Linked DNA regions of Homo sapiens: all the other regions are linked to region 4. Evidence: fine-mapped QTL for protein levels in blood plasma. Region 4 holds a variant in brackets. A gene starts in each other region. All regions are shown on their forward strands.

The links. A credible set is the group of variants that fine-mapping cannot tell apart. PIP is the chance, under the fine-mapping model, that this variant and not a neighbour inherited with it causes the effect. Protein levels are from antibody-based Olink assays in UK Biobank. Linkage for the fine-mapping came from a reference panel and not from the study's own genotypes, which makes the PIPs less certain.
Region 1: it holds the start of VEGFC, and the variant in region 4 is the best candidate, but not a certain one, in a credible set for the plasma level of the VEGFC protein (UK Biobank, PIP 0.77).
Region 2: PPBP starts here. The variant in region 4 is the best candidate, but not a certain one, in a credible set for the plasma level of the PPBP protein (UK Biobank, PIP 0.52).
Region 3: it holds the start of CPXM1, and the variant in region 4 is the best candidate, but not a certain one, in a credible set for the plasma level of the CPXM1 protein (UK Biobank, PIP 0.56).

Annotation. Positions count from the first base shown.
Region 1 is chr4:176,792,502-176,797,023 of GRCh38, forward strand. It overlaps VEGFC (vascular endothelial growth factor C), which reads right to left and starts at 421. Exons shown (of 7, transcript NM_005429.5): 1 at 1-421.
Region 2 is chr4:73,985,699-73,990,256 of GRCh38, forward strand. PPBP (pro-platelet basic protein) reads right to left here and starts at 2,492. Exons shown (of 3, transcript NM_002704.3): 1 at 2,258-2,492; 2 at 1,819-1,954; 3 at 741-1,676. The coding sequence starts at 2,405. The coding sequence ends at 1,574. RefSeq lists an enhancer at 1-171.
Region 3 is chr20:2,798,897-2,803,514 of GRCh38, forward strand. CPXM1 (carboxypeptidase X, M14 family member 1) reads right to left here and starts at 1,731. Exons shown (of 14, transcript NM_019609.5): 1 at 1,505-1,731. The coding sequence starts at 1,676. RefSeq lists enhancers at 1-300, 301-1,288, 1,289-2,274.
Region 4 is chrX:70,454,524-70,459,141 of GRCh38, forward strand. All of the region lies in intron 9 of DLG3 (discs large MAGUK scaffold protein 3), which reads left to right. DLG3-AS1 (DLG3 antisense RNA 1) reads right to left here and starts at 1,471. Exons shown (of 2, transcript NR_109801.1): 1 at 1,422-1,471. RefSeq lists silencers at 255-681, 419-648. The variant CT/C (reference allele first, on the strand shown) is at 2,228.

The DNA of each region.
Region 1 (4,522 bases), not on the chromosome of region 4:
CCCAGCCAGTGCCGGGGAAAGGCGGCGGGTGTCAGGTAAAAGCCTCACAGGAAACCGGACATCCGAGCTCCCCGCATTCGGAGCCCGCGAGGTGAAGCGAGGGCGAGGGAGGACGCCGCCGCGGTCCGCGTCGGTGTAGCTTTTTGGAGAGGCGGGGCGGGGGACACCAGAACACCCCGCGATGTTCAGCCCCTCCAAACCCGCCAGAGCCCTCGTCCCCCTCCTCCCTCCCCTTCCCCGAAGTGAGAGGAGCCGGGCCGCGGGCGCTGCGGCGGGGGCGCTGGCGGCGGTGCCGGGGGCGGGAGGAGGGCGGCGGGGCGGCTGGCGGCGGCGGGGCCCGGGAGCGCCGCGGCGCAGGATCCTCCAGAGCGCGCCGGGCTGAGCGGCGGCGGCGGCGGCGGCGGGCGCAGGGGCAGGGCATGACTGACGCGCCCTCTGCCTGCGCTTATGTGAGAGAAAGCGGCCGAGGGAGGGAGCGTGCCGAGCCCGGGCTGCCCTCCCCTCTCACTCTCCCTCGGAAGCCGTCTCCCTGGAGCTCCCCGTTTCCCTCGCCTCCTCCCCGGCGGCCCCACCTCCCCCGGCCCCCCTCTGGATCTCTCCCTCCCCGCCCCTGTCCCCTGCGGGGAGCGGGCGGCCGGAGGGGCAAGTTCAGTCCCGGGGCTGGCGGTTGGCGGGACCGGCTTTAGAGGTGATGCGACCACCCTGGACCACGTGCAGCGGGGAGAAACTGGGCACCGTGGGGTGGAGGGAGCCCCCGCTTTATCCTCGGCCACTCCCGAGTTCTTGTCCTCCCTCCCGCACGCCTGGCCCCCAGAGCCCTGCTCAAAGTTTGGAAATGTCCTGGGGGTTGTAAAAGTTCCAAGAAAAGGTCATCACTATGTCAGAGAACCCTATGGGACCTCGGAGGGGTCCCCTCTCTCCCTTGGTCTGTGTAGTTGAAAGTTGCCTGATGATCCAAGAACCGCAGTTCTCAGGATGCAGTGCAGGCTGTTGGGATGGATGCTAATGATCCCTTTGGAATCCTAAACTTCTGACAGGTGAAGAGAAGGGCCAGAATCTTCGTGGAGAGTAAAGAGACACATTGTCAGCTTCTGCAAGAAGTTGGTTTACTTGAAAAAGGGGGTGATAAAGAGAGATGTGTGTGAGACATATTCCAGAAAGGATGTGTAGCATCCAAAGAAAAGTGACTGCATTTCCCCATTGGAAAAGCACTGGGGTTTCCGTTGGGCTGGTGGCATTGGCTAGCTGCCTCCTTGGGGCAGGGTGAGCAGGTTACAGAGGACCACGCTAAGGGGTTTCAACAGTGTACAGAACATCAAAAGTCTGCCTTTCACTCCCAATCTACTTTTAAGTACACAGATGTTATAGGTCCATAATATCTTACCGGAAGAAGAGACTTTCTTATCTGGTTCAACTCTAGATTTGAAACTCCTCACCCATAATTTACTTGAAGGCTTAAATATCTCAAAGGACAGGGAACCTTCCATTCTGTGTGGCTGTTCACTCCCTTTATTGATGAGCAACACTGCTGAAAAGCATTTCCTTCTATCTCTCTATTGCTTTTGACTCCTGGAGTTTTACACAATAAATCTAATCTCACTTCCACAACTGAGTCCTTCAAATATTTTGAAAATATTTATCATGGTCTCCCTAAGCTAACTTTACTCCTGGCTAAATATCCCTTTTATTCCCCAAGATGACAGTTCCAGTTTCCCCCCTTAACCATACTGTTAGCTTTCCATGTTCATGAAGTATGCGGTTGAGAACATGGCTCGGTACTTAGTGCTGTAATGAGCATGCAGAATGGACAGTATGCCTTTGTTGATACAGCCTTGGATTGAGTTTATTTTCTGGCAGCCAAATCACAGTGTTGACTCACACTACCCTTAAAGTCAACAAAATTCCTCAATAATTTTTCATATGTACTGCTACTTAGTCACGTCTAAATTCCCCTGTATTTGTGGAGTTAAGTTTACTGTATCCAAGATGCTTTTTTATGTATCTTTATGAAATTCCATCCCATCAGACTCGGTCCATGATCTAGCCTGTTGAGATGTTTTGTGATTTGGAACATGGTCAGTGTATCACTCTCTTGCTGTCTTCCTGCTCTATGCATATTTGATCAGCCTGCCATAGTTATCTTCAGACATTGATAGATCTGTGAAAAGGGAACAGCTAAGGGCAGACTGGGGTAGGATTTGAATAGAAGGTGGAGTTTCCATTCAACCATTTGCTATTACAATGATTCTAAACTTTGATTGCACTTGGCATCACAAAAGGAGATTTTGAAAAAACAGATGCTTGAGTACACCTTCTGCCTTTCTGGCTTAACTGGTCTAACTGGAGTAAGGCTTGGACATCAGGATTCTAATAGGCAAACAAAATTGAGAACCACAGGCATTTCCAACACCCACAGGCCTAGCAGCGGGTGAAGACTGGAAAATCAACAAACTCAAAATATATCCAAAATATATTAATATCATATTAACTACTGTTTCATTTAAATACAGCAGTAAGCTGTATTCAAACTTTTTTCTCACAAAAGTGTTATCTTCCTGCTGCTATACTTTGAGTCAGAAAATGCTGGCAAAAAGTTTATTTGAATAAAAAAAAGGTCTCCAAAAACAATCATGCAGTAGTTGTTTGTCTTAAGGTTGGTCGGGCACGGTGGCTCACGCCTGTAATCCCAGCACTTTGGGAGGCCGAGGCGGGTGGATCATGAGGTCAGGAGATCGAGACCATCCTAGCTAACACCGTCCATCTTAGGGAGACCATGATAAATATTTTCAAACGTTGGTGAAACCCCGTCTCTACTTAAAACACACACACACACACACACACACACACACACACACACACACACACACACACACACACACAGAATGTCTTAAGGTAAAAACGAATAGTTGCTCAGGACTTTTTGGTTTTTTTTCTTCCTTACCCCCTGGAAACACTTTTTGCCACTAGCAGATTTTAAAGGTTGAGAAAGTCCTTTTCACTGGTTTGTGAGTTCATCACTAGCTTCATGCAAGACCTATTTTACAACAGGTCTTCTAAATCTGGTTATTCAAAAAGCATTGCTCAGTCAGTGGAGAAAGAGAGGTAGCAGGGCCCCAGCCAGAATAACACCTCTTTTACATATTGAGTTTTTGTTTTCTTTGATGATAGGTTTTGTTCTTTGTGTTTTGTGTCTGTGTGTGTGTGTGTGTGTGTGTGTGTGTGTGTGTTTGTTTGTTTGAGATGGAGTCTCGCTCTGTCTCCCATGCTGGAGTGCAGTTAGAGTACAGTGGCACCATGTCAGCTCACTGCAACCCCTGGGTTCAAGCTATTCTCCTGCCTCAGCCTCCCAAGTAGATATGGGAGATGATAGTTTTGGATGGCAAAATAATGATGATAATATATCCATTGTACATTCTCTAATATCCATTCTGACCATCTACTTTATTTCTCATTTGTTATTCCCTACCTTCTTGCTTTGTTAGTTTTACTTTGTTGCTTCATTTCAAGCTTTTTTAGCTGAATGCTTAGTTCATTTTTCTTCTTTTTAGTTTAAAAATACAAGTTTCGGGCCATGTGTGGTGGCTCACATCTGTAATCCCAGCATTTGGGGAGGCTGAGGAAGGAGGATCACTTGAAGTTACTTTGAGACCAGCCTGGGCAACACAGCAAGACCCCATCTCTGCAATCAATCAGTCGATCAATAAAATACAAGTTTTGTCTAAATTCTGCTTTACTTGTATTTCTCAATTTTGATACGTAGTGCTTCCTTTGGCAAACAGTTGCAAATATATCTTAATTTGTTTATATTTTTAACCCCCAAATTATTTGTGTTTTCTTAGTTTAGGGATATATGATTTTTATCAATTTCTAATTTTATTATATTTAATTTTTGCTATAAATGATGTTGCTTTTAGAAATGCATTCAGGCTTTCTTTGTAGTCCTGGACATGGCTGATCATTGCAACTAATTCTGTGTGTGCTTTATTTTTGTTGGGTATTAATTTTGAGCTTATTATAATGTTCAAATCTTGTTTGGGAATGACGTTAAAATCTCCAGTTATAATTGTTGACATGTTTTTCTGTTTCTGACAGTAGTTCTTCCTGTTATTTTTTAACATAATGGGATACTATATCATTTTGATCTAATTTTCTTCTTGGTAGTATACAATGTCATTTTTTTAACTTCTGATATTTTTATTTGAAGTTCTACTTTTTCTGATATTAAAATCATAGGCTTTAAGAATTGAGATCAGCTGTGAACATGACTTAGGTAAAACTATGAACCAGTTATGTACACATGACTTAGTTGTTTCTTCTAGGAAACATTAGCCTGGAAAAGATAAGACTGCAATCCAGTATTTAAATTCAGTGTTTGCTTCAAGAAATGCTGGCAAAACAATATATCGAAGATAATAATATTCTGACTCTGGTAAACAGCCTGCTTATTAATGACAGTTTTCTTACCCAAACTCTCACTTACAGATGTTAACTGATCCTAAACTACTAGATCATGAACGTTGCC
Region 2 (4,558 bases), not on the chromosome of region 4:
TATTATAGTATATACAGTATGCTATTTATGTATCAAGTTGTATTACATGTGTGAATAATACTATGTTATATGTAATGTAATCTCTTCATTAGAGAAAGAAGAGTTGAGGAAAGCACTGTGGTGTGGTGGTTAAGAGCACAATTTGAAATTCCCACTCTGTTACCTACTTAGTTATCTGAAAGTGGGCAAGTATTTTAAACTCTATAAACTTGATTTTTCTCTTCTGTAACACTGGGGAGGATAATAATAATCATAAGAAATAATTACTAACATTTATGTGTGGCTTATTTATGACACACATTATTTTAAATACCTTAAATTTATTAACTTTTTTAATCCTTCCATAAACTCTATGAGGGAGGCAATATTATCCCCATTTTAGGGATGAAGAACCTAAGGTACAGAGAAATTAAGCAACATGACCTGATATACACAGCTAACAAGTGGCAGAGCCAGGTTACCTCATTATTCAAACTCCAGAGGATGTTCTTTTAACCAGATCATATCTATCTTTTAAAAAATTGTTTAGTTCATGCATGGAAAACACTTAGTATTCCTGGCATATTAAAATGATTAATAAATTGGAACTGTTATCATACTACATTAAGAATGACACCGATCATCAATTTAGTAACTTTTGTTGTTCAAACTGTGAAATACCAAGTATACAAAAAAGAGAGGAAAATTAAAGCTTTTTTTCCCCAACAATCCTGTTAAAATTAATAATAGATGACAACAAGTCAATAGCAAATTTTTATTTCATGTGAATATTTTTGTAAGAATAGTGTGGGTATAAGTTTTAGGGTTTAAAAAATGAATGAAAGTTCTGTTGATGAAAAAAGTAGAATTTAGAATTAGGAGTCTAGTAAGGTTGAAGTCCTATATTGTACTTATTTATAAGGCTCATTCTAATGATAGAATTATAACTATGTAGATATGTTAATTCATTTTCATCATCTATTTTTGTTCTACTAGTGGCAAATATATTCACTTTAAACCAGCTAACCACAGTTTATAAGATTCATATTCACCAATTTATTATTTTAGTGTTTGATGGCTAAAATAAACATCAGAATAAACTTTCAGGGAGTATTTTAAATAAGACATCCTAGGACTAAGACACTGAGAGACTCCATTAAGTTCCTAAATATATTAACAAAAATGTATTGAGCAAATATTCTCTGTTGGGCTCCATGTAATTCCTATTATCATTGACCATTATGAAATCTAATAATACCCATGAGTATGTCTAATAACCATAAAGTAGACCAGGAAAAATCAACCAAGTTGTGTTAGAATAGAAATTTTTAAAGAAAAAAATGCAAAGTACAGTCCAATGTTTAGGCAAGAATTAGAGGGTTGAAACCAGGCTTATTTATTTTCATCTTCTTTCTGCCATCTTTTAACCAACCTTCTCAGAATAAAATGTGATTTTTGAGACAGAATGAAACACATATCCAAATTTTAATACAGTAAGAATAGGTATCCTGAATAAATGAGAACTCTAGAAAATCAAGGTTTCAAAATTCTACCCTTCCTGGGAGTTAAAGAAGTTTGGCAGAAACAGAACAAATTAATCAGCAGATTCATCACCTGCCAATTTTTTCTGTACAATTTTCTTGATTCTGGGAGCATCTGGGTCCAGGCAGATTTTCCTCCCATCCTTCAGTGTGGCTCTGCAAAAGAGAACAGGGTTATCTGTGGGTGTCCTGATCTGAATATCAGAACTAATCCATGAGACTGGAGGAAACGAGTGCATATGTGGATGGAGGTAGAGGGTTTCTCTGATAAGGCAATAGCACAGAAACAGCAACTTACATCACTTCGACTTGGTTGCAATGGGTTCCTTTCCCGATCACTTCCAAACTTTGGATGTTTTTGGGATGAATTCCAGAGGTTGTCTTTATACACATGCAGCGGAGTTCAGCATACAAGTCACTGTCTAGACTTTCCTCTAGGGTAGAAAATGTGACCTATTGGTGGTCATGAATATTTTCCTCAGGTCTCTTATTTGCAGATTGAGGGCAATTGTACCTCTCTCATAAAGCCATTGTGAATATGATCTGTAACGCTTTAGTAAAGTGCCCAGAAGATTGCCCAGCACACAAGAAGTGAGAAGTGACCCCCCTGTGTGTCTCCTCCAATTGGAGTTATTGGTATAATGGCCCTCTCCAGCCCCAAAGGCACCAAGCTAGTCTTTACCCCAGAGACAGGTGTAGCAGAAGCAGCAACAAGTGCAGAGAAGCAGGGCCTCTACCTTTGCCTTTCGCCAAGTTTCTCTTAGTTTGTCCTTTGGTGGAGGAAGCCAGAGCAGTCAGCAGCAATGACAGAAGCAGCAGCACCTGCAAGGCATGAAGTGGTCTCGCACTGTTACAGGAAGGGGTGGTATCAAGTCTGAGGCTCATGGTGGAGAAGGCTGAGCTAGAGTTGTTTCCAGAACCAGAAGACCTCTGAGTGAGGGTGAGTTGCTGCCTACAAGTCTGCAGATAAGTGGCTTCTCATGCCCTGAAGATGTCATTTATATGCTCTTTCTCAAAGCCAGTAAGAAGGAAGAGGTAGGAAAGGAGGAAGTGAGGGTATGTGGTGATACACACATAAGCATTTGAAGCTGTGCCCAACCCAGAGAAAGACCAGACAGGTCAAATTCCTACTAACTTGCTTAATGTGCATCACTTCACATTCCCACTCTCCCTTTCTCAATACTTATCTTCCTTACACCTGTGTAAGAACTCCGTTCAGGAAGGTAAGAACTAGACTGAAATACTACATGCATTTTCTTTGTATGATTTATAACAATACGCCCTGCCTTTTCTATACTGCAGTTTTTAGGCTTAATAGAAACTTTAGGAGCACCTGAAGGCACAAACATGTGGCCCTTGAAAGAGAAAGTTATCTTTGCTTGCCAAAGAAAGCAAATGTTCTTTTCATGAATGTTGATAAATATTGGGATTGGTTTGGAGCATGTAAGTAAAATAAGAGCCAATTACCGTCAAAGGTTGTCTTTGGATTTTAGCTTATTGGATTCTTTCTGCCTTCAATCTATATTATCTTTTGTAATTTCATCTAGAAACTACAAATGAAACTCATCCTCCTTTATATTACAAAAGAAGCTACTTGTTTCTACCACCTAAGAATACCTAAAAAGTAGGACCCAGCATATTTATTTTTCTTTTTATTTTTAATTTAACAGAAAAATTATATAATTTATTGCAAAAGATTCGTATGCTGCAGATGTCTTTGAAATAAAACACAAATTTCTCTTCATCATTTCTCCACATTCCTACTATTCAGTGGTAAACACTGGTAACAATTTTGCATTAGTTTTCAATTCTGTCTGCACTTATATGCACACATGTATATGTATACAATGAGACACGTTTAAGACATAGAGGTACACATATACATAGAAGTATTGTATATGGATCACTATACAGCTGACTTTTATCCTTCAAAAAATATGTGTTCCTTATCTTTTCAGGTCATCTTAATGTAGTTTTCCCCCATTCTTCTTAATGACCATGTGACGTCCTGTGATAAGAACAATAGTTACTCAACCTTGCCTTGTTGGTGCCCTTCACGGTGTTTCCAATTTTGCACTATTAGAAATTGTGCAAGAAATGTCCTTACCAAGGAAAATATTTGTTCCTGAATTCTCAGACCCAAATTAAAGGTTTTGGTCTGAAATGCTATATCCCTACAAAGATAGAGAGGTGGACCTACACATTACATGTTGGCTTTATGTTATTTTCTGGTTCTCTGTCCCATCTGTAAGACTTCCTTCCTCAATTGAACCATGCACTTTTGTAGGGAGTGGCATGTCCTGTGTTTGTTTGAATGTCTCATGTATCCTATAACATGTAGGATACTTCAATATAAAGTAGGTCTTAAATAATTAATAAATCAATGAATACGTATCACATGAAAGCTTCCCTATCCTTTCTAATCACCTACAATTCCAGGCCAAACTCGACAGGACCCAAAGCAACTATGCTATTTAAATTTATTTGGAAGATTGTCAATAAAGAAGAGGCAGATGTAAGTGGCACTGGCAACAAGTTTTCTTCCTTTTACAACTATGTATAAGTCTCACAGAATATTATTTAAATTTTCCATATTCTTTTCTTACTTTTCATATCCTTAAATTTTAGAAGAAATGCTTAAAATACTAAATGTTCAAAATTACTCTCTATCAAAAAGATGAATATAGTAATTTTTTAAATCATGTTTTTGTTTTCAAGCCAATTTTCCCTATTGTTTAATAGTTATCTACTATGTCTACTCAAGTTCTCAGGTCCTGTTTTTAAATGCGATAACCTACAGACCACATTTGACAGTTTACTTTAGAAGTAAGCAGACTTCCAAATTAACTCGCCCTGGAAAGGTTTCGTGACTTGATGGTGACATTCTATCTCTGAGTAAAGTATTTTATTACGAGTTCCTCAAATGATTGATGTACTAATTACTGTAGAACCTACTGACACTAAATAGGACAATGATTTATTTCTAAGTTTAGCTGAAACAAAAAGTTTTATTGATTGTTTTGTATGTAGACATTTAG
Region 3 (4,618 bases), not on the chromosome of region 4:
GGGGTCCGAGAGGCACAGCATGGGGGAAAGGAAGAATGGTGAAACCCCGGATGGAAAGGTCTGCCAGCCCAAGAAGACATGTGAGCCCACAGCAGGCCACACCACCAGGATCTAACAGCCTTCACAGGACATCAAAGGCCTGCAATCTGACCCCAACCTGCCTCTCCAGTCACTTCCTTGGCTCCTCCTTCTCCTCCCTGATGTAACTACATGCTTGGCCAGCCTCCCCTGTGAACCTCTAATCCAATGGAGAGCTGCACCCAGCCTCTAGAAACTGTTCGGTTGCTCCAAAGAGCTGAGTCTGGCACTTTACCTCCGGGCCTCTGCACTAGCTATCCCCTCCCCTGTAATGCTACCCCTCGCCTCTGATTTTTTCACCTAATTCCCATTCTTCCTTTGCATCTCAGCCCAGATGCCTTTCCAAGGAGGCTTTCTTAGCTCCAGACTCAGCATCATGCCCCAAAACCCCTGTGCCGCTTCCATTGTTGTGTCTGCTCTCTGGGCTCAGATGGCCTGTCCTGGAATCCATGTCTGCCTGGGTGTCGAGGCTTTCAGGGCTGGGCCTGCCCGCCGGCCCTTCAGCACAAGGCTCTGCCCAGGCAGGTGCTGGGGGTACCCATCGAAGCTCCACAGCTGCCTCCAGAACAGGCTGCCCATTTCCGCATCTGGTGCCCCTGTGCCTTTGCCCGCCGCTTCCTTCTTGGCAGCCCTCTCTCTCTCTCTCTCTCCAGACTCCCCTGACTCGGGGACATCACCCTTCAAGACCCTCCTCCACTTGCCTCCTCTAGAAGCCCCTGAGTGCCCTCCGCTTGCGCTCCTCCTCTCCTATTCCACATCTGGAAAGCTGGGAGGTCGGGCTGCCTTCCTCTCCCGCTCTGCCCCATCCTCCCGGCAGCCTCAGCGAGGGGCTCTCCCTTCTTTCCTTTTGTTCTTTCTCTCCAGCCCTCGCCTTCAAACTCTCTCCTACGCAGTCTTGCTCTGCACCTTGAGAGCTTCTGCCCCTCTGTCTCCCCTCCTGCCAGTTCTGGCCTGTTTTGTCTTTGGTGAAAAGGGAAGGTTTGGGGCTTGGAAGAGGCAGCATCCCACTGGCGCCTGTCCTGGGACTGCTGACTAGGTCTGGCAGGGAACTGGGGCTGCCGAGTCAGCAGCCATTGCTCCCAGCAGGGAGTTGAGGGAGTGTGAGTGTGTATATGTGTGTGTGCACTGTGAGTGTGAGTGTGCGCGCGCGTGCACTGTGTGTGCGCGCACGCGCGTGTGAGTGTGCGTGTGTGTGCATGCGTGTGAATGCGCGCGCGTGTGAGTGCAAGTGTGCGCGTGTGTGAATGTGTGTGAGTGCGCGCGCGTGTGTGCGCGTGAGTGCGAGTGTGCGTGCGGGGTGAGTGTGCATGACTGTGAGTGTGCGTGGGTGTGCGTGTGCCCGCGTGTTAGGGAGGGATCGCCCCACGGGGCAGGAGAGCCGGGCAGTCGGCTTGCGGGGGAGCGGACCGTCGGTCGGGGAACTCACCGTTAGCTGTCTCCGCCGGCGGCTGTGCCGGGCTGCTATGCAGGGCCGGGGTCGAGCCTGGGACCTTGGTGGTCCCGGGCTGCGCGAGGCCCAGCACCGAGTTCCTGGGCGCCCCCAGAGCCGGGCCGACGGCCGGCGCGAAGGCGGCCAGGGCGAGCAGGAGCCCCCACATGGCGGGGATTGAGTGCCAGGGGCGCGCGGGCTACGGCGGGTGGCGGGTCGGTCTCTTCCTGCCGAGTGCGCCGAGCCCCCCGCCCCTTCCTGCCCCCCGCCCCTCCGCAGCCTCCTGCCCGCCCACAGCCCGCTGCCCGCCTCGGACCTCGGAGAGGAGGAGAGGGCCGGGAGGAGCGAGCGGGGCTGACCTCCAAGGGGCCGCCCCAAGTCTCAGGACCGCCGACTCTGCCCTTCCTCTCCGCCGTCTGGGGCCAACCCGCCTCGTTGGCGCGCTGCGCCTTTATAGTCTGCAAAGCCACACTGAAGAGACCAGAGATCACCTGGTGGCCATCAAGTCGACCAACAGGAGGCAAAGCCCCTTATCTGAGCAATTCAGAATGACACTTCCCTATTGTCTAAAGCCACATCTGGTACCAAGCTTCCGTCCCAAGAATTTATAAGTAACTAGAATTTCTGTACGTTTCCGGAATGAGTGCACGTTAAGACCCATTGTGCAAACTTTGCTGACATCAAGGCACCAAAATATCGACAAATGTAACCATTTACCATGACCTAAGTGACTAATGTGGTCCAAATTACCCTGCAGTTCCCCGCAGGGAGCTCAGTCCTCTCTTGCTGAAGCGCCTACTGCGCTCTGCTGCCTCGTCCTTTCCGTCTAATAAAACTTTCCTTTTCAGACCTACACGGTTGTTGATAAGTTCTTTTACCACCCGGGAGCCAACCACTTCCCGGTTCCGGAGCTCTGACACCTCGCCTGGCATCTTGGTGGCCCATACGGGGACTTCACTGGGATTTCCCTCTTCCTTTTTCTCTCTGCTTCCTTCCACGGTCTGGTTCTTTACTCTTTGGGGAACTGCCGGTCCCGGTGGAGGCAGCTCTTCTGTGGGATCCTGAAGCCCTAGAGAAGGGATACCTGGCTGTCCTTGCCCTTAGGGGTGAGGGACTGGCCAGGGCTCTTTTCTGTTTTCGGACTGCCAGTGAACCAGCTTGAGTTCTCGTTGGCAACTGACAGTTTCTGGCCAAGCGCCATCCCCCGGTATTACCCCAAGGCCAAGACAAAAGAGCTATTGCCTGTCAGAGTGGCAGGGCACTTTCATTTTAACACTCCATAAGCCTTGTCCTGGAAGCGGTGGATCTCAATTCTACACAGGGATGCCTCAGGGATCTTGTAGTTCCTTGTCTAAACCCAACTTCGGTTCAATTAATTCAGTTCCATCCAACTCGCCCTTGGATTGCCTCCTTAAAAATGGTCCCATTGGTCTCATTTTGACCCACAAACTCTTAAAAATAAGCATATAAGGCTGAGCACAATGGCTTATGCCTGTAACCCCAGCACTTTGGGAGGCCAAGGCAGGCAGATCACCTGAGGTCCGGAGTTAAAGACCGGGAGTCTACTAAAAATGCAAAACTTGGCCGGGCACAGTGACTCACACCTGTAATCCTAGCACTTTGGGAGGCCGAGGCGAGTGGATCACCTGAGGTCAGGAGTTCGAGATCAGCCTGGCCAACATGGCGAAACCCTGTCTCTACTAAAAATACAAAAAAAAAAAAAAAATCAGCCAGGGGGCTAATTATATGTGGCGGGCACATATAATCCCAGCTACTAGGGAGGCTGAGGCAGGAGAATCACTTGTACCCCGGGGGCGGAGGTTGCAGTGGGCCAAGATGGCGCCACAGCACTCCAGCCTGGGCGACACAGCAAGACTCTGTCTCAAAAAATACAAATAAAAAATAAATAAGAGTTTAAAAAGCATATCCTTTTTTCTAATATTGCTTGGGTTCAATACAAGCTCCCTAATCAATCAATTTGGCCAATTAATGAAACTTGGGATTGCAATGCTACTTTACAACTTAACTGATTTTTTGCCGGAACCTTGGAAAGGATTCAGAAGTCCCATATGTTCAGGTCTTTTTTGCTTTATCCCCAAATCCAAACCCAAAATTACATACAAATTGTCATGTATGCTTCCAAGGAACGTCCTCCCTTCCCGGTTCTGATGTCTTAGATGATCCTTCCTTTTGCCTATTACATCCTCCTCAACCTGCTCACTCTTCACCTACACCCTCTCCATCTGCTCCATTCCCTAGTCAATCTCCCACCCACATACCCAAATACTTTCTCCCCTTCACATACTCTCAGGGGAGTCACATATGCTACTAGTACAGAGTCCTCAGAAAAATCCCCAAAATATTTTGCCTCTCCCTAAGGTGGCTAATGAAGATTTGGGAACAAGCCAAGTTCATGTCCCTTTTCTGATCATGTCTGATCTTTTGCAAATTCAATCCAAGTTGGGTTCATTTAGTCAGGATCCCTCTAAGTTCATTCAAGAATTTCAGACTTTAACTGTTGCCTTTGATTTAACCTGGCAAGATGTATTTGTGGTATTAACTACCTGCTGTTCCCACACACAAAAAATCACACGTGTGATCTTCAGCATGGGCAGATGAAGCTCATGCTCCCAGTCCTAATAACAGAGCTGGGCAGAAGCTGTCCCCAACATAGAACCTATTGGCAATACCAGGCCACCAATTCTGGCCCAAACAGAGGTAAGGGCAGACAGGATCATATGGTAACTTCTCTGTTGGAGGGAATGAAAAATATATAATAAAACCTGTTAATTTTTCTAAATTATAAGAAATAATAGCTGGGCGCGGTGGCTCACACCTGTAATCCCAGCACTTTGGGAGGCTGAGGCGAGCGGGTCACCTGAGGTTTGAGACCAGCCTAGCCAACACGGAGAAACCCCATCTCTACTAAAAATACAAAATGAGCTGGGCATGGTGGTGCATGCCTGTAATCCCAGTTACTCCAGAGGCTGAGGCAGGAGAATCGTTTGAACCTTGGAGGCGGAAGTTGTGGTGAGCTGAGATTGCGCCACTGCACTCCAGCCTGGGCAACAAGAGCGAAATTCCATCTCAAATAAAATAAAATAAAAAGAA
Region 4 (4,618 bases):
ATGTGGGCTGCAGTGCAGGAGAAGGCCAGTAGTGGGCAGCAGCCTACTGGAAGCAGCATCCAAAGATTAGGGCGACTGGAAAAAGGGGAGGGGGCGGAGGGCCCACAGGAGAAGACTGGGAACTGTGTGCCCTGGAAGAGGAGAGCAGCTCTTGGTTAGAAGGACCTCAGGTAGAAGAGATCCGACCTCTTAAGAGATCTTGGGCCAAACCTCTGTGACCCCCACTCCCCTCCCCTCATCAAGATGACCGTGAAAGACCCATAAACGCGCTGAAAAGGTGATACTATGCCCTTGGGATAGGCCAACTGGAGTCGACTCCCTCCCCTCCGGGGGGCCTTCTTTGTATTCTCAGTGAGCAGTCCTTGGCTGGGGCGAATGGGCGGGGCTGGTCATGCAAATAAAGGCGTTTGATTGGCTGGGGCCAACCGAGGCCCAGGTGCCGAGGTGAGCCGCGGGAAGGCGCGCCCTAGCCTGCGGGCCAGTGGAGTGGCCATTGGCCGGCTGAGGGCGGCCTCCAGCCGCATGCCCCGCCCCCTGACCCAGGAGGAGGGCGGCAGGCGCCCCTCCTTCCCCCCATCGCGCGCCTCAGGCGTCTCCTCCTCCTCCCTCCTTCCCCCTCCTCTCTCCTCCCCTCCTCCCGCGCGCCCCGCTTTGTGTCCGTGGTCTCCCGCGCGGGACGGAGGGACTGGCCGGAGCTGGCGCTTTCTCAGCACTAGATCTGGACTCCGACCCGGCGCCAGGTGAGGTGGGGCGGACGGGGGTCAGGCCCCCTCGCAGTCCCCCCTAACCTCTCTACGGCTCTGTTCTCAGCCTCTTTTCCAACACTGCGTGCCCCAATTCTGCCCTCTCCCTCGAATGCCTTCGTTGCGTGCCCCCAGGCTCCTTCTGAGACCCTCCTCAGGGCCCCTCGGAGCGCCGCGCGGGGCTCAGCGCCCCCTCACCCTACACTGGGCCCAGTCTGGCCTTCACCTCTTAGCCATCACCTCTCCCCCACAGCGAGCTGTGCCCCCTTCTCACCCCAGGGCCTCTGTCCTGCCTCAGCCCCCTTCCTGCTGGCTGCTGCGCCCCCAAGCAGCTCCCTAATCCCTTGCCCTAGAGGAATTTTCTAAATCTTCCCCTCCCCCGACACCCATTTCTCCACCCAACCTGTCCACCTCTGAGAACAGCCGCGACCGGCTTGGTATTCTGCCCCCTCCCTTTTGTTTGCAAGGGATTCGTACCATTCCCGACTTCTTTCGCCTCCTCCTCCCCTTTGTCCCCTAGGGCTGCAGCGCCTGGGCTCCTGGGACACCTAGGCCCTGTGGGCCGATTACTAAGGTGGAAGGGACCGACCTCTCCCTGGCAGGTGCTCTATTTCCGCGATGAGAGGGGGAGAGGCTGGGAGCCCCGTCGCCAAGCCGAAAGGGATGGAAAGCGCCTACCTTTGTCCTTTCCGTTCCCCTCCCCCCATGCTCCTTCAGTGCCTCAAGATCCTGAAGGGAAAGAAGAGAGAGCCTGCGACCTTTTCCACGAGGCTCTTCTGATCGAGGACAGAAGTGCAGGGAGGTAACTCACAGGAGAGAGAGCTTGTTGGTCTGAGGTAATGAGAAAGAGGGATGCAAATGGACACTTTGAGTCATTTCTCTCCTTGTTTGGTTTTCAGCTTACTGATCAGGAACGCACCTTAGGGATATTGTTTTTTTATGATTTATGTGTGTGCTGTTCGCTTTCCAGTACAGAGCTAACCGTCTGATTTTTATTAGCAACTAATATTTGTGCATTTCATGCCCACAACTTAGACAACACAGGTTCTGCAAAGGAAATGGTTTTTCTTGCGTATTTGTGTGTGTATGTTGTAGGAGAAATTGATGTTTCTTTCGGTTTTGCTCTCTGATGTTGGGCACATGGAAACAATACTGTGAATTGTGTGTGGTGGGGGTATGCTGGATACTAGTGACTACATATTTCTATGACTTGTTAGGGGAATGCAACTGGCTTGCATAAAAAGCTGCAGGTTGTCCAGGGTAAGGGGATTCCTGCAGTGTTTATTGCTCTCTGAGCATATTTCTGAGAGTTTATAATGTAGGTTGAGGTGCTGTTTTATGCTAGTTCTTTCTACTACTTGCCAAATAAGGCCTTTCTTCTCTTAGGATTTAGGTGAACCACTGTTGTTAAGGCTCTGCCACCCCAATCAATCTTACTTCCTCCTTTGGTTTGGTAAATCCAGCAAGTCCCCAACATGCAAAAG[CT/C]TTTTTTTTTTTCCCCTTTTGAAAACAGATCCCTGGAGACTGGTCCAGAGGGACTGTCAAGCATTCTGTGTTGGGCTCTAAATTTTCTTTGGTAAAGTGCTAGTTTTTAAAAATAAGGACTCCATGTTGATCAATTTATAAACAAGTGTGGTTCTTCAGAGGATTACATCACGGTGGGTATTTACAAAATGAATAATCCAAATACATGTATGTTGGTTGGCAAGAGACCTTGCATGTGATTGGCCAAGTAAGTGTTCATTACTTGAATTTTTTTTTCTTCACGTGAATGTGAGAGCTGGAAAGGATCAAGTGGTCCAATTCTTCATTGTGCATACTGAAACAATGACAAGAGAGCCAAGATATAACTTGTCTAAGAAGGGAAAGTTGCTGAAGGTCAGCATCAGAGGGTCAGCAAATCAGCTTAATCCTGAGGTCTACCAGTTGGGACAGACCATGCTTGTGAACACCTGAGGGACCTAACACCTAGTTAAAAGTGGAGGAGCAACAGGAAGGATACTGGGGAATTAACAGAGGACAGACTAGGAAGAGTGTAAGGGAAAGAAAGATGGATGTGGAGGGGAAGGTTAGAGTGATCTCCATGGTGGCCTCTGAGGCACCTTTGCCAAACCAGTGCAGCCTTTAGCATGAGAGATTTAAAAAATAGGTTTGACTAATAGAACAATCAGAGTAAGACAATTTGTCTCCTTTTTAAAATGGTGTTATTGAGAGGTAAGTCATTTACCATACAGTTTCCTCATTTAGATATATATTTCAGTGACTTTAGGTATAGTTGTGCCTCCATCACCACAGTACGTTTTAGGACTTTTTTTTTTTTTTTGAGACGGAGTCTTGCTCTGTCGCCCAGGCTGGAGTGCAGTGGCACGATCTCGGCTCACTGCAAGCTCTGCCTCCCAAGTTCAAGCGATTCTCCTGCCTCAGCCTCCCCAGTAGCTGGGACTACAGGTGCTCGCCACCACGCCCGGCTAATTTTTTGTATTTTTAGTAGAGACGGGGTTTCACCATGTTAGCCAGGATGGTCTCAATCTCCTGACCTTGTGATCCGCCCGCCTCGGCCTCCCAAAGTGCTGGGATTACAGGAGTGAGCCACTGTGCCCGGCCTAAAACTTTTTGTGTGTGTGTGTGAGACAGTGTCAGGCTCTGTTGCCCAGGCTGGAGTGCAGTAGCACGATCTCGGCTCACTGCAACCTCTGCCCCTCAAGCTCAAGCCATCCTCCCACCTCAGCCTCCTGAGTAGCTGGGACTATAGGTGTGCACCAATACACCTGGCTAATTTTTGTATTTTTTGTAGAGATGGGGTTTCACCATGTTGCCCAGGCTGGTCTTGAACTCCTGGGCTCAAGCATTCTTCCTGCCTTGGCCTCCCAAAGTGCTGGGATTACAGGTGTGAGCCACCATGCCCAGCCTAATTTTTGTATTTTTAGTAGAGATAGGGGTTTGCCATGTTGCCTAGGCTGGTCTTGAACTCCTGAGCTCAAGCAGTCCACCCACCTTGGCCTCTCAAAGTGCTGGGATCACCGCTCCCGGCCTAGAACATTTTCCTTACCCCTCTTCTTTTAATACATAAAAGGTGTGCAAGCATTAGAAAGATGATGGGTTTAGGACAATTGCTTCCTAATGTTCCTCCTCTGGATACTTAGAGGCTGGTGGCAACTTGAGAATGCTCTAACTGTGAGATTCTTTTTTTATTTGTTAATTTATTTGTAGAAACAGGGTCTCACTATATTGCCCAGGCTGGCCTCGAACTCCTGGCCCAAGTGATCCTCCCACCTCGACCTCCCAAAGCACTGGGATTACAGGCGTGAGCCATAATGCCCAGCCAAGATTCTTTCAAATACCTGGTTTGCTTAATGTGGGTTTAACCCATAATGAAGTATAGGAACTGTGTCTTTCTATTTGAACTTTGTATTGTGCCCAGCATGGGTGCTTTACAGGTGTTTTTATGATGAGGCTTTGGAAAATATTAAAATAGAAATAGAAATGCTAAATGATAAGATACCACAGTAAGAGATACTATTTAGTGGTTTCACTCCTGATTGCTCTAAACGGTTATGGACACAGCAATCCTACCTATTAGCTAAAAATAGCATGATGTTCTTGGACATGTATAATACTGCTTAAAATTCAATTGAAAATTTAAACAACTGGCTCTTGGCAAAGGCTCTCTTAAAATCTATTCTAAAATGAAAAATATTTTTCTGTGACTTGTGGAATTGTCCCACCAAGGGAAGGATGGGTTATGTGTTAGAACATTTTGAGATCTCCTACATTTTCCCCGTAGTGACTTTATATCAGCCTCTGTTTATAAACTGATCTAGTATTTTTCTTGAAAGCCCTTTTGTTTTTAGAGTAGAAACTGATCTCAAAAACAG